Homo sapiens: one gene and its partners. The protein of the gene in region 1 interacts with the protein of each later gene in a biochemical or structural test. Each region holds a gene or a part of one and is shown on either strand. Other genes may lie near its edges. The genes, in order: SHROOM4, ABCC4 and PBK.

Evidence for each region.
Region 2: the proteins of SHROOM4 (region 1) and ABCC4 interact in a test that uses a peptide from one of them, tested with the Homo sapiens proteins (one large-scale study listed by IntAct).
Region 3: the proteins of SHROOM4 (region 1) and PBK interact in a test that uses a peptide from one of them, tested with the Homo sapiens proteins (one large-scale study listed by IntAct).

The regions. Positions count from the first base shown.
Region 1 is NC_000023.11:50,604,659-50,608,309, forward strand, and holds part of SHROOM4 (protein Shroom4), read right to left. Parts: intron 3,527-3,651; coding exon 2,723-3,526; intron 1-2,722. UniProt on the Homo sapiens protein: Probable regulator of cytoskeletal architecture that plays an important role in development. May regulate cellular and cytoskeletal architecture by modulating the spatial distribution of myosin II.
Region 2 is NC_000013.11:95,291,420-95,295,070, forward strand, and holds part of ABCC4 (ATP-binding cassette sub-family C member 4), read right to left. Parts: intron 1-3,651. UniProt on the Homo sapiens protein: ATP-dependent transporter of the ATP-binding cassette (ABC) family that actively extrudes physiological compounds and xenobiotics from cells.
Region 3 is NC_000008.11:27,827,769-27,831,419, forward strand, and holds part of PBK (lymphokine-activated killer T-cell-originated protein kinase), read right to left. Parts: intron 431-3,651; coding exon 337-430; intron 1-336. UniProt on the Homo sapiens protein: Phosphorylates MAP kinase p38. Seems to be active only in mitosis. May also play a role in the activation of lymphoid cells.

The DNA of each region.
Region 1 (3,651 bases):
CTAATTGGAGACTCAGTTCCCCAGCATACACATCCCTGCATCATATTATAGTATATCACATTAGGCACTATATTCTAGGGATCCTTTCCTTATCACCTCCATTAATAGGGAAGTGATTATAGGTGGTCTATGTAGTAAACATCAAAGCAAAAAGCAGATTCCTTTCACAGAGCACTGAGAGGAAATGCATAGAGTCCATAAAGCAAGCTATACCTATACCTGAATCAGTTATTAGACTTAAATAATACTTAATTATTCCACTAGCTGGCTTCTGTGTGTATCCCAGCATTTTTTAACAGAACAGTATGTAGGTTATAAAGGTACTAGAGTTTAACTTGGCTGAAATTAGGATATCTTTGTTTGCATTTTAGATTCAAAATATTATGCATCTATATGTCCCTTACAAAATCTTAAAGCTGCTTCCTTCTGGCTAGGACACTGTCCTCTCCTAGGGTCTGGAATAGAATCTTCTTCAAGAGCCCAGAGATCGTGGGATGATATAGCAAGCATAGTGAGCTACCTGAGATCTTGTGATAAAGTTACTTTATCTCCCTGGGCCTTGCTTTTTTCATCTAAGAAATGGAGAAGATGAATGGTAACTATTTCATAGGTTTATTTTCATGATTAAATCAATCATTACCCAAAGTGCTTAGAACAATGCAGGGCACATAGTAAGCAATCAAAAAAATTAGCTATTTTGGGAATGATGCTGTTCCTTAAATCTCCATCACTCAAAGGAGCATCTAATTGATTTTGTAGTCACAAGCAGAGCTGTGTGCAAACAAATGTTTTCCCTTACATCCTAGAGTCATTAAAAATAAATCTCTGGAGCAAGTTACAAGATCTCTAGTAATAGTGATTTCTTTCTGTCTGGCCAAGGTGCCAAGGCAAAGGGAGCTACACAAAGAAGGAAGAACCAGGGCTTGTAACTGCTGCCTCTGGTACACCTTGCCCTACAGGAGAGAAGAGGACCCTGTGACTCCTGGCCTATGGAAAGAACAAGATCTCTCTGGGAGAGGCTGCCTAGGAAGGCAAAATAAGCATGGGCTTTGGAGTCAGACAGCTCTGGCTTTGAATGTTTGCTGTGTAACTTGGAATTAGTTAGTTTCCTCATCTGTCAAATGGGGATAATAATGGCTAATAGGGCTATTGGGAGGATTAAATGAAATAGATACATAATGTCTGGCAGTGTCTGGTATATAAGAAATACTTAATAAATGTTCATCCATTCATTTATTTGTTCTTTCTTCTTAAATATTTGTTAAGTGCCTACTATTGGGAGGTCATTTTCCCTTTTCCCTGCTATGATAGATAACAATCACAGGTATTTTTCACAAAATGTTTTCTAATTACAATGAGAATGCTCCCCAGGTAGAAGAACAGCTTGAGAAGCAGCCACATGGGATCTAATGAAGGATTCTTTTTTTTTTTTTTAATTATACTTTAAATTTTAGGGTACATGTGCACATTGTGCAGGTTAGTTACATATGTATACATGTGCCATGCTGGTGCGCTGCACCCACTAACTCATCATCTAGCATTAGGTATGTCTCCCAATGCTATCCCTCCCCCCTCCCCCCCTCATGAAGGATTCTTAACAGTGCCTGGGAGCCAGGCCCTGTAAATGCTGTGCTTATGGCATCTTGGGCTGGAAAACTGATCAACTAGCTCCACATAGACAAGTCACAGATTTGTCTGACAATAAAAGACATGATAACAAGGTACTTCTAACCGCAACAAGTCTCAGGCAAATTCCTGCTATAAAGAGAGTTAAGGAAAGCACTTATAAGCCACCTGCCTCCCGAACCTCAGCCCCAGCAGAGAGTGGGCTGAGCTCTCCACAGGAGAGCAGGTGGAGCTGCTGACAGCCAGAGCACTGAGCAATAATAGCAATGATGGTCCTGGGGCTTTTGCTTTGGAGCAAAAGAAATTAAAAAAAAAAACCCAACCATGCACTATAGGGCATGCAGATGACAACTGGCTCAGTGGAGTGAACAAACACTGGCAGTCCTGCTGCCAGAACACACTCTTGCTTTGGCCTCCCTGCCCAGGCAGCTCACCCTGTCAACTACCACCTATTACACACCCACATGAATGCAAAGAGGCAGGTAAACAAGGAGGGGGAGAAAGTGGAAGAGAAAAAGAATGTCCTTATCTATTGTAAGGAATTATCAAGGCATGAAGCACCCAGCCCCAGGAATACCTTTGATGCTGGTGGTTGTGGGGGGACGAGTTTAGAAGCCCAGGCTACTTGTCCTAGAGCAGAGGCAGGTCAGGTTGTGAGCTGGCCTCTTATTCTGGAGGGCAAGCAGAAGAGAAGGCAGGAAAAGTGCCTGAGCCAGGTTTCTGGGAAAGACCTAGTATAGGCAACAAGTGTTCAATGCCTTTGGGATCAGGGGCCAGAAATTGATGGATACCATGAAGACACACTAAGGAAAAGTATAGTACTTTAATAAAGATATTTAGGGATAAGAACATGATATTTACTGAGCATGTACTATGTGCTAAGCATGGAGCTATATCCTTTATGTAGATTATCTTAATATTCATAACAATCATGTGAAGCAAGTATCATTATACCCATTTTCCAGGTAAGAAAACTGAGGCTGGGAGCAGTTTAACTGGCCAGCCTGAGGTCATCCAGTTAGTAAATAGTGGAGGTAAAATTCAAACTTGTGCTGCCTGCCTCTTCAGAGACCTAGTATCTTTCATATGTACTTACTTGGCGGATTCAGTGGCTTCCTGTCCCGATGTCCTCCAAAGCCCACCAATGCCATAGTAGCAAGGGGGCTGAGCCTGCTCAGGTTGAGATCCCAAGTGACCCCTTATTGGAGGCAAGAAATCACTGGAATGGAGTGCAAAGGATTCTTGCTCTGCTGGGACACTTTGTGAACCCTGTCTCGAGCCCTCCAGGTGGCCAAAGCTGAGGGGTTGTGGCTGCTCTAGGACCTCCTCAGGATTGAGAGCACAGGAACCAGAGGTTTCTGAACTGAAATACTGGGGTGGCAGCTCCTCTTCCTCCTCCTCTGCCTCCTCCTCCTCCTCTTCCTCTTCCTCTTCTTCTTCTTCTTCCTCCTCCTCCTCCTCCTCCTGTTGCTTCTGCTGCTGCTGTTGCTGCTTCTGCTGCTGGGCTGCACGAAAGAGCCTGTACTTCTCCCAGTTGGGAGGAGGAGGGCGAGGAGGAGGAAAGGCCTTCTTCCTGGCTCCGAGAAGATCCGACTGGGTCTCATCACCTTTGCTAAAGAGCTCCCTCCTATGCTGCCCCCAGGCCCGGGTGCTTTGGGGCGCCAAGCTGATGTGACTCTCTGAGAAGGCACGGCTGCGCAGTGGGTGGGGCATGGAGGCAAGGGAGCTCCCCTCCTCATAAACTGAAGTTTCCTCTGATTTTTTCAAAGCATGTTTGAAGTCTCCAAGGAGGTCAAGAGAAGAAATTGCTCGGTAGCTTGACAAGTCCAGTGCTGGGTTCTCAAGGCAAGGATGGAAAGGGGTTGCCCATGAAAAGCTAGTCTTGGAATGAGCCATTTCCCTGCAAAACATCAGATGAGTACTGAGAAAAACAAGCAAGTTGCAGATAGGCCCATATTTTGGATGACAACATTTATATAAAATTTAAAATGTCCACAAAACAATGTAGTATGTGTAGTAAATGTA
Region 2 (3,651 bases), on another chromosome or scaffold:
AAGCAGACCTCCATATGACACGACCTCTCTTGACACTTGTGGCCAAGTTAATCTAGCAACCACAGTGTTGATTAGTGGATCTGCCACAACCTAGAGGACATTCCTAGGACCCATCCTTTCTAGCATTCAGACTACGAAAGTGTTCCAAGAACTTTCAACAGCAACAATGAGCTGCTAAACGTTAGCATCTACAAAATGAATTTGCATAGGGATAGAAGAGCAGTTACATGGGGACAAGCCCTGCGGACTGTGAGGTCAATTGGCCATGTGTCCAATATAGCTCAACTGCATGTATCACTGATGATGCCCAAATTGACATAAACTTCCTGACCACATTGGCCAACATGATGAAACTCCATCTCTACTAAAATACAAGTATTAGCTGGGTGTGGTGGCGCGTGCCTGTAATCCCAGCTACTCGGGAGGCTGAGGCACGAGAATTGCTTGAACCAGAAGGTGGAGGTTGCAGTGAGCCAAGATCATACCACTGCACGCCAGCCTGGGCAACACAGTGAAACTCCATTTAAAGAAATAATAATAATAAGATAAACTTCTCCATGAGCCCCAAACTCATGACCAATTGAATGCCTATTCAACATCTCCACTTGAATGTGTAGCAGGCATCTCAAACTTAACAGGGTCAAAAATAAACTCCTGTCCAGGCACCATGGCGCATGCCTGTAATCCCAGCACTTTTGGAGGCTAGGGCGGGAGGATCACTTGAGCCCAGGAGTTCAATACCAGCCAGGGCAACATGGCAAAACTTCATCTCTACAAAAAATATAAAAAATTAGCTGGGCATGCTGGCACACACCTGTGGTCCCAGCTACTCAGGGGGCTGAGGTGGAAGGATGGCTTGAGCCCAGGAGGTGAAAGTTGCAGTGAACTGAGATCGCACCACTGCAATCCAGCCTGGGTGACAGAGTGACACCCTGTCTCAAACAAAGAAACAAAGATTTAATGTGGCCATGATAGCTGTCTTTGAATACTATGAGGCGAGCATATGAAGGGAGGTAGCCAACTTGCTCTGCGTGTTGACAAAAAAACAAAGGAGAGCGGCTCTGAACCTATTTTGGTTCTAGGAGCTGCTTGATTCACAGATCATTCTTTGCTTCATTAAATTCTGTAATGCTTTTCTTAGAAGTAAGTAAACACAAGTAGAAATTGCATGGAAAGAAAACTGTGGCTCAATACAACATAATTCTGGCATTCGAATCTAAAGTCATGAGAGTCACATAATGCATTTCCCCACTGCCCAGTATCTGGAAGGGATTCCTGTACTGAGTGTGGGCTAGAAGATCTCTTCCTTTCAACCCACTAATTCTATGACACTAAGGAAAAGGGGAAGATAGGAGCTAGCGCAGAGAAAAGAGCAGACAGGGACTAGGCCTGAAACAGACCAGCACGGAAGTGGTCATGGAACCCAGAAATGGAACAAGGAGCTACGTCGCAGGCCACAAAAGGGCTGTAAGTACTCATGAGTAAGGGGCTGGAAGTGGGAGAAGCAAAGTCTGAACATCTGCTGGGATGAAAGAGGGGAGGGCAACCTTGGGTGTAACAAACGCTACCGGCTGGCAGGGACGACATAGCGACTGAGGGGTGGTCATTCGCCACACGTCTCAGGCAACACTTTCTCCAACTGCAGTTCTGTGACCTGGACATCTCATCCCCTGCCAGGAACGATTTCCCACCTTCTCCATCCAAGCTCCAACAGGAAGGTAAACCCCTCCCCAGAGATCTCCATCTTGGCCAACATGGCAAAACCCTGTCTCTAACAACAACAAAAAAATTAGCCAGGCCTGGTGGTGCACATCTGTAATCCCAGCTACTTGGGAGGCTGCGGCAGGAGAATCGCTTGAGCCCGGGAGGCGGAGGTTGTAGTGAGCCGAGATCATGCCACTGCACTCCAGCCTGTGCGACAGAGACTCCATCTCAAAAAACAAAAACAAAAACAAAATCCCCACCCTCACACAGCTTTTCCATACTTCTACTCCAGCACACCCAACACGGGTTCAGGATGAACTCCTGCAGCAGCGACTGCTGGACACACGGACTATGTTTTTTTGAGATGGAGTCTCGCTCTGTTGCCCAGGCTGGAGTGCAGTGGCGTGATCTTGGCTCACTGCAACTTCTGCCTCCCGGGTTCAAGCAATTCTCCTGCCTCAGCCTCTCGAGTAGCTGGGACTACAGGTGCATGCCACCACGCCCAGCTAATTTTTGTATTTTTAGTAGAGACGGGGTTTCATTACGTTGGCCAGGCTGGTCTTGAACTCCTGACCTTGTGATCCACCTGCCTCGGCCTCCCAAAGTGCTGGGATTACAGGCATAAGCCACCGCACCCAGCCTGGACTACGTTTTCTTTTGCTTTTTTTTTTTTTTGAGACAGAGTCTCATTCTGTAGCCCAGGCTGGAGTGCAGTGGTGCAATCTTGGCTCACTGCAGCCTCCACCTCCTGGGTTAAAGCGATTCTCCTGCTCGGTCTCCCAAGTAGCTGGGATTACAGGCATGTGCCACCATGAAAGAAGGCAGGGTGCCTTCTTTCTTGCCAGGTGCAAATCCATTACAATAAAGTACCATTCCTGTTCTCAAAGAGCTCACACAATGAGGGAGGCAGCCACTGTATCGTGCAAATAATGCTAGCTATTAAACAAGCCCTGATTCTCAATGGCTTAATTCAAAATCACCAGCCGAGGCAGTGGATCACATGAAGTCAGGAGTTGGAGACCAGCCTGGCCAACACAGCAAAACCCCTTCTCTACTAAAAATACAAAATAAATAAATAAATAAAAAATTATCCGGGCGTGGTTTTGAGCTCCTGTAATCCCAGATACTTGGGAGGAGGCTAAGGCAAGAGAATCGCTTGAACCCGGGAGGCAGAGGTTGCAGTGAGCCGAGATCACGCCACTGCACTCTAGCCTGCAAGACAGAGATAGACTCCGTCTCAAAAAAGAAAACAAGAAACCAAGACCATGCCTATTGTCATGCTATAGTCCCCTTTTGGGCCATCTAGGGTGGTGAACAACACCATACATTTACTCCTAGCTGGACTTTCACCATCTTGCGGCTCGGCCTCCTCTCAGTCCTCCTCCTCTCCAGGAGGCCTCTTTATTCAGCTGGAGAGGCGTTGCATGGGGCTGGTTTTTGTGTTCCAGTCGTGGAAGCGAGACACCTTTTGCAACCACTTCCTATTGGCCAGGTCTCAGTTTCATGGTCACCTCTGACCACAAGGTTGGGGTAGAAAACATAGTCCAGGCTGGGCATGGCGGCTCACGCCTGTAATCCCAGCACTTTGGGAGGCCCAGGTGGGTGGATCACCCGAGGTCAGGAGTTCAAGACCAGCCTGGACAACATGTTGAAACCCCATCTCTCCTAAAAGTACAAAAAATTAGCTGAGCATGGTGGCGCACATCTGTAGTCCCAGCTATTTGGGAGGCTGAGACAGGAGAATCGCTTGAACTCCGGAGGCAGAGGTTGCAATGAGCCGAGATCACGCCACTGCACTCCAGCTTGGGCAACAAGAGTGAAACTCCATCTCAAAAATTAAAAAATTAAAAACAAAAAATAAAATAAAAATAAGGCACTCAAATGTTTGCTAAATGAATAATCTAAACCGCAGAGGATCAAGGCAGTAACCTTGGCCTCCCAGACACC
Region 3 (3,651 bases), on another chromosome or scaffold:
GCTTCCTCTTTGAGGTTTTCTCATGAAGAATCTGGTTTAATTACCACAAAGGAACCCTTTCCCCTGCCACTTCCCCTTCTTATGGAAGCCAAGGAAAAATTAAAAAGTAAATGACTTCCCCTTTAATAACCCATCAGGAGGAAGCTAGGAGAAAAGCAGAGGCAGAGCTACAGGCAAAGTTACAAAAGGGTCTAGGGACCGGAATACAGCCATCAGCCAGGATCAGGAGCAGACAACCGAATCTAAATACTGGAATTTTCAGACTACTTCTTTGTCTCCAAGTACAGTAGAATTATAGTTGCATGAAAAAAGGTTAATCTGAAATCTTATACTTACCTTTTCATTAGGTACACATTTACCCCAGTACCAAAGCCAAGCTTCTGCATAAACGGAGAGGCCGGGATATTTATAGTTGGAGTTGAACATAATACTAAATGTCAGAGAAATAAAAAATAAAATTAATAAAAAATAAAAATAAAGCATCTTAACATTCTCAATATACTACTGCCAAGAGTATTAATTGGCACAGTCTTTTTGGAGAGCAATTTGACAACATATATCCTAATTTTAAATGGGTATCTTTTGACCAAGCCTACTTTTGGAGTTTTATCCTACAGTAACTCTGAAGCAGAGATTGGGAAATGGCCTGTTTTTGTATGGCCTACAAGCTAAGAACTGTTTTCACATTTTTAAAACATTGTTAAAAGATAAAGGGGTTGGATGTGGTGGCTCATGCCTATAATCTCAACGCTTTTGGAGTCCGGGGCAGGAGGGTCACTTGAGCCCAGTAGAGACCAGCTTGGGCAACATAAAGAGACTCCATCTCTACACACGAAAAAATTTTTTTAATTAGCCAGGAATGATGGCACACACCTGTGGTCTCAGCTACTTGGGAGAAACACTTGAGCCCAGGAGGTTAAGGGTGCAGGTGCAGTGAGCTGTGTTCAGCCTGGGTGACAGAGCAAGACACAGTCTCAAAAAAAAAAAAAAAAAAAAAAAAAGATGAAAAGATGGAGTTCTGCTTCTGCTCATGAAAAATAATTAACTACTCCTGGACAATTAACTGCTCCTAGAGTTACCATCTCGCCATTAACTAGAAAACTAGACAAAATATAATTGTTTTCAGACACTTGACAACAGGCAGAGCAGTGTTGTGATGCCTGAGAGAAGAGAAACAAATGAGGTGGGCCCTATCACTGCCCTAACTTACTGCTTGAAGGCAGTTTCCAGACTGCAGGACAGAGGTCACATAATCCAGAAGTCCTGTCACATTGAAGAGACAGAGATCAGAGGTCAAGAAGGACTAGGCGGCTAGAATTTGTGGAGCAGAGAACTAGAGAGCTCCAAAGAGAGCACTCCAAAGATCTGAACAGTTTCTCTTTGAGTGTTTGGCCAAGTACTTATCCGCACATAACAATGTGTAGATGCCCCAAAGCTGGGAAAGCACCAGAGGAAAGCAATTGGCTCAACAATTACCAGAGATCATACAAGTCTAGGAACACTTCATATCACCATGAGCTAGAGGATGGTAACCCTGTAACACATAGTAAAGTCCTCTAAAGGGTCACAACTAGATAGTACAGCTAAAGTTTAGCCCCAGATAAACATTCAAAACAAAGCTTAAAAGCCAGTCTCAAAAGGAACAGGCTAATGTGCAGGTAACTTAACCTCAGACCATAACTAAATCAAACACTCTTTAAAGGAATAACAAAATCCAGTACTAGACAATGCAAAATATCTACTGCCCAATCAAAAAGTACCAGGCATGAAAGCAGCAAGAAAATATGACCAATATAGGAGAAAAATAAATCAATAGAGGCCTAGCGCGGTGGCTCACGCCTGTAATCCCAGCACTTTGGGAGGCCGAGGCAGGCAGATCACTAGGTCAGGAGTTCGAGACCAGCCTGGCCAACATGGTGAAACCCCGTCTCTACTAAAGAGGCAAAAAATTAGCCAGGTGTGGTGGCACGTGCCTGTAATCCCAGCTACTCGGGAGGCTGAGGCAGGAGAATGGCGTGAACCCAGGAGGCGGAGGTTACAGTGAGCTGAGATAGCGCCATTGCACTCCAGCCTGGGCGACAGGGCACAAGACTCCATCTCAAAAAATTAAAAAATCAATCAATCAATAGAAACATACCATAAGATGACAGGAGGCCAAGAGTGGTGGCTCACGCCTGTAATCCCAGCACTTTGGGAGGCTGAGGCAGGTGGATCACTTGAGGCCAGGAGTTCAAGACCAGCCTGGCCAACATGGCGAAACCCTGTCTCTACTAAAAATACAAAAATTAGCTGGGCGTGGTAGCACGTGCCTGTAATCCCGACTACTCGGGAGGCTGAGGCAGGATAATTGCTTGAACCCAGGAGGTGGAGGTTGCAGTGAGCTGAGATCGCACCATTGCACTCCGGCCTGGGTGACAGAGCAAGATTCTGTCTCAAGAAAAAAAAAAAAAAAAAAAATGACAGGAATGGCAAAATTAGCAGATAAGAACCTTAAGACAAATCTTAAAAATGTGCTCAATGATACAAAGGAAAATCTGAGCATAACGGAAAAAAAAAGACAAAATAGAAGCTTAGGAATGAAAAATACAATGGATAAGAATAACATCATCTTAGAGCAGAAGAATAACTAAATCTTAAGACAGAGCAACAAAAACTATCAAAAATGAAGCAAAGAGAGAAAAAGGTTAGAAAAAAATCATCAATGAGCTATGGGACAATAGCAAAACAGCCGATTTACATCCAACAATAGACAATTACATTGAGTATAAATGGTCTAAACAGAGCTGTCCAATACATCATGCTGCCATGTGGAAATGTCTATATCTGTGCTGTCTGAGCGCTGAGCACTTAAAATGTGACTAATACAACTGAGGAACTCAATTTGTAATTTTATTTAATTCTAATTAATTTGTATCCAAATTTAAATAACCACATTTAATAATCCAAATTTAAATAACCAAATTTAAATAGCCACATGTAGCTAATGGCAAAACAGTCCAGTTAAAGGAAATTAAAGTTGTCAGAACGGATAAAAACAAGACGAGACATGCCATTTATAATAAACTCAATTTAAATATAAAGACGCAAATAGGGCAAGAGTAAAGGGTTGAAAAACATCATTAAAACACAAATCAAAATAAATCTGGAGTGGCTCCATTACTATCACATAAAGTGGACTCCAGAACAAAGAGTACCACTGAGGATTAAGAAGGGTATTTCGTAACAGTTAAGGTATAAATTCATCAAAAGAAATAACCATCCTAGGCCAGGCATGGTAATCCCAACACTTTGGGATCTGACTTGTGGTTTATGTGTCTTGGTGAATGTTGCATGCACTTGAAAGGGAGGCCAAGGAGAGTGGATCACTTGAGGCCAGGAGTTTGAGACCAGCCTGCCCAACATGGCGAAAACCTGTCTCTACTGAAAATACAAAAATTAGCCGGCCATGGTGGTGCACGCCTGTAATCCCAGCTACTCCAGAGGCCAAGGCACCAGAATCACTTGAGCCCAGGAGGTAGAGGTTGCAGTGAGCCGAGATCACACTGTTGTACTCCATTACGGGTGACAAAAGGAAACTCAAAAAAACAAGAAAAAGAAAAGAAATAACCATCCTAAATGTGTATGTACCTAATAACAAAGCTTCAAAATACA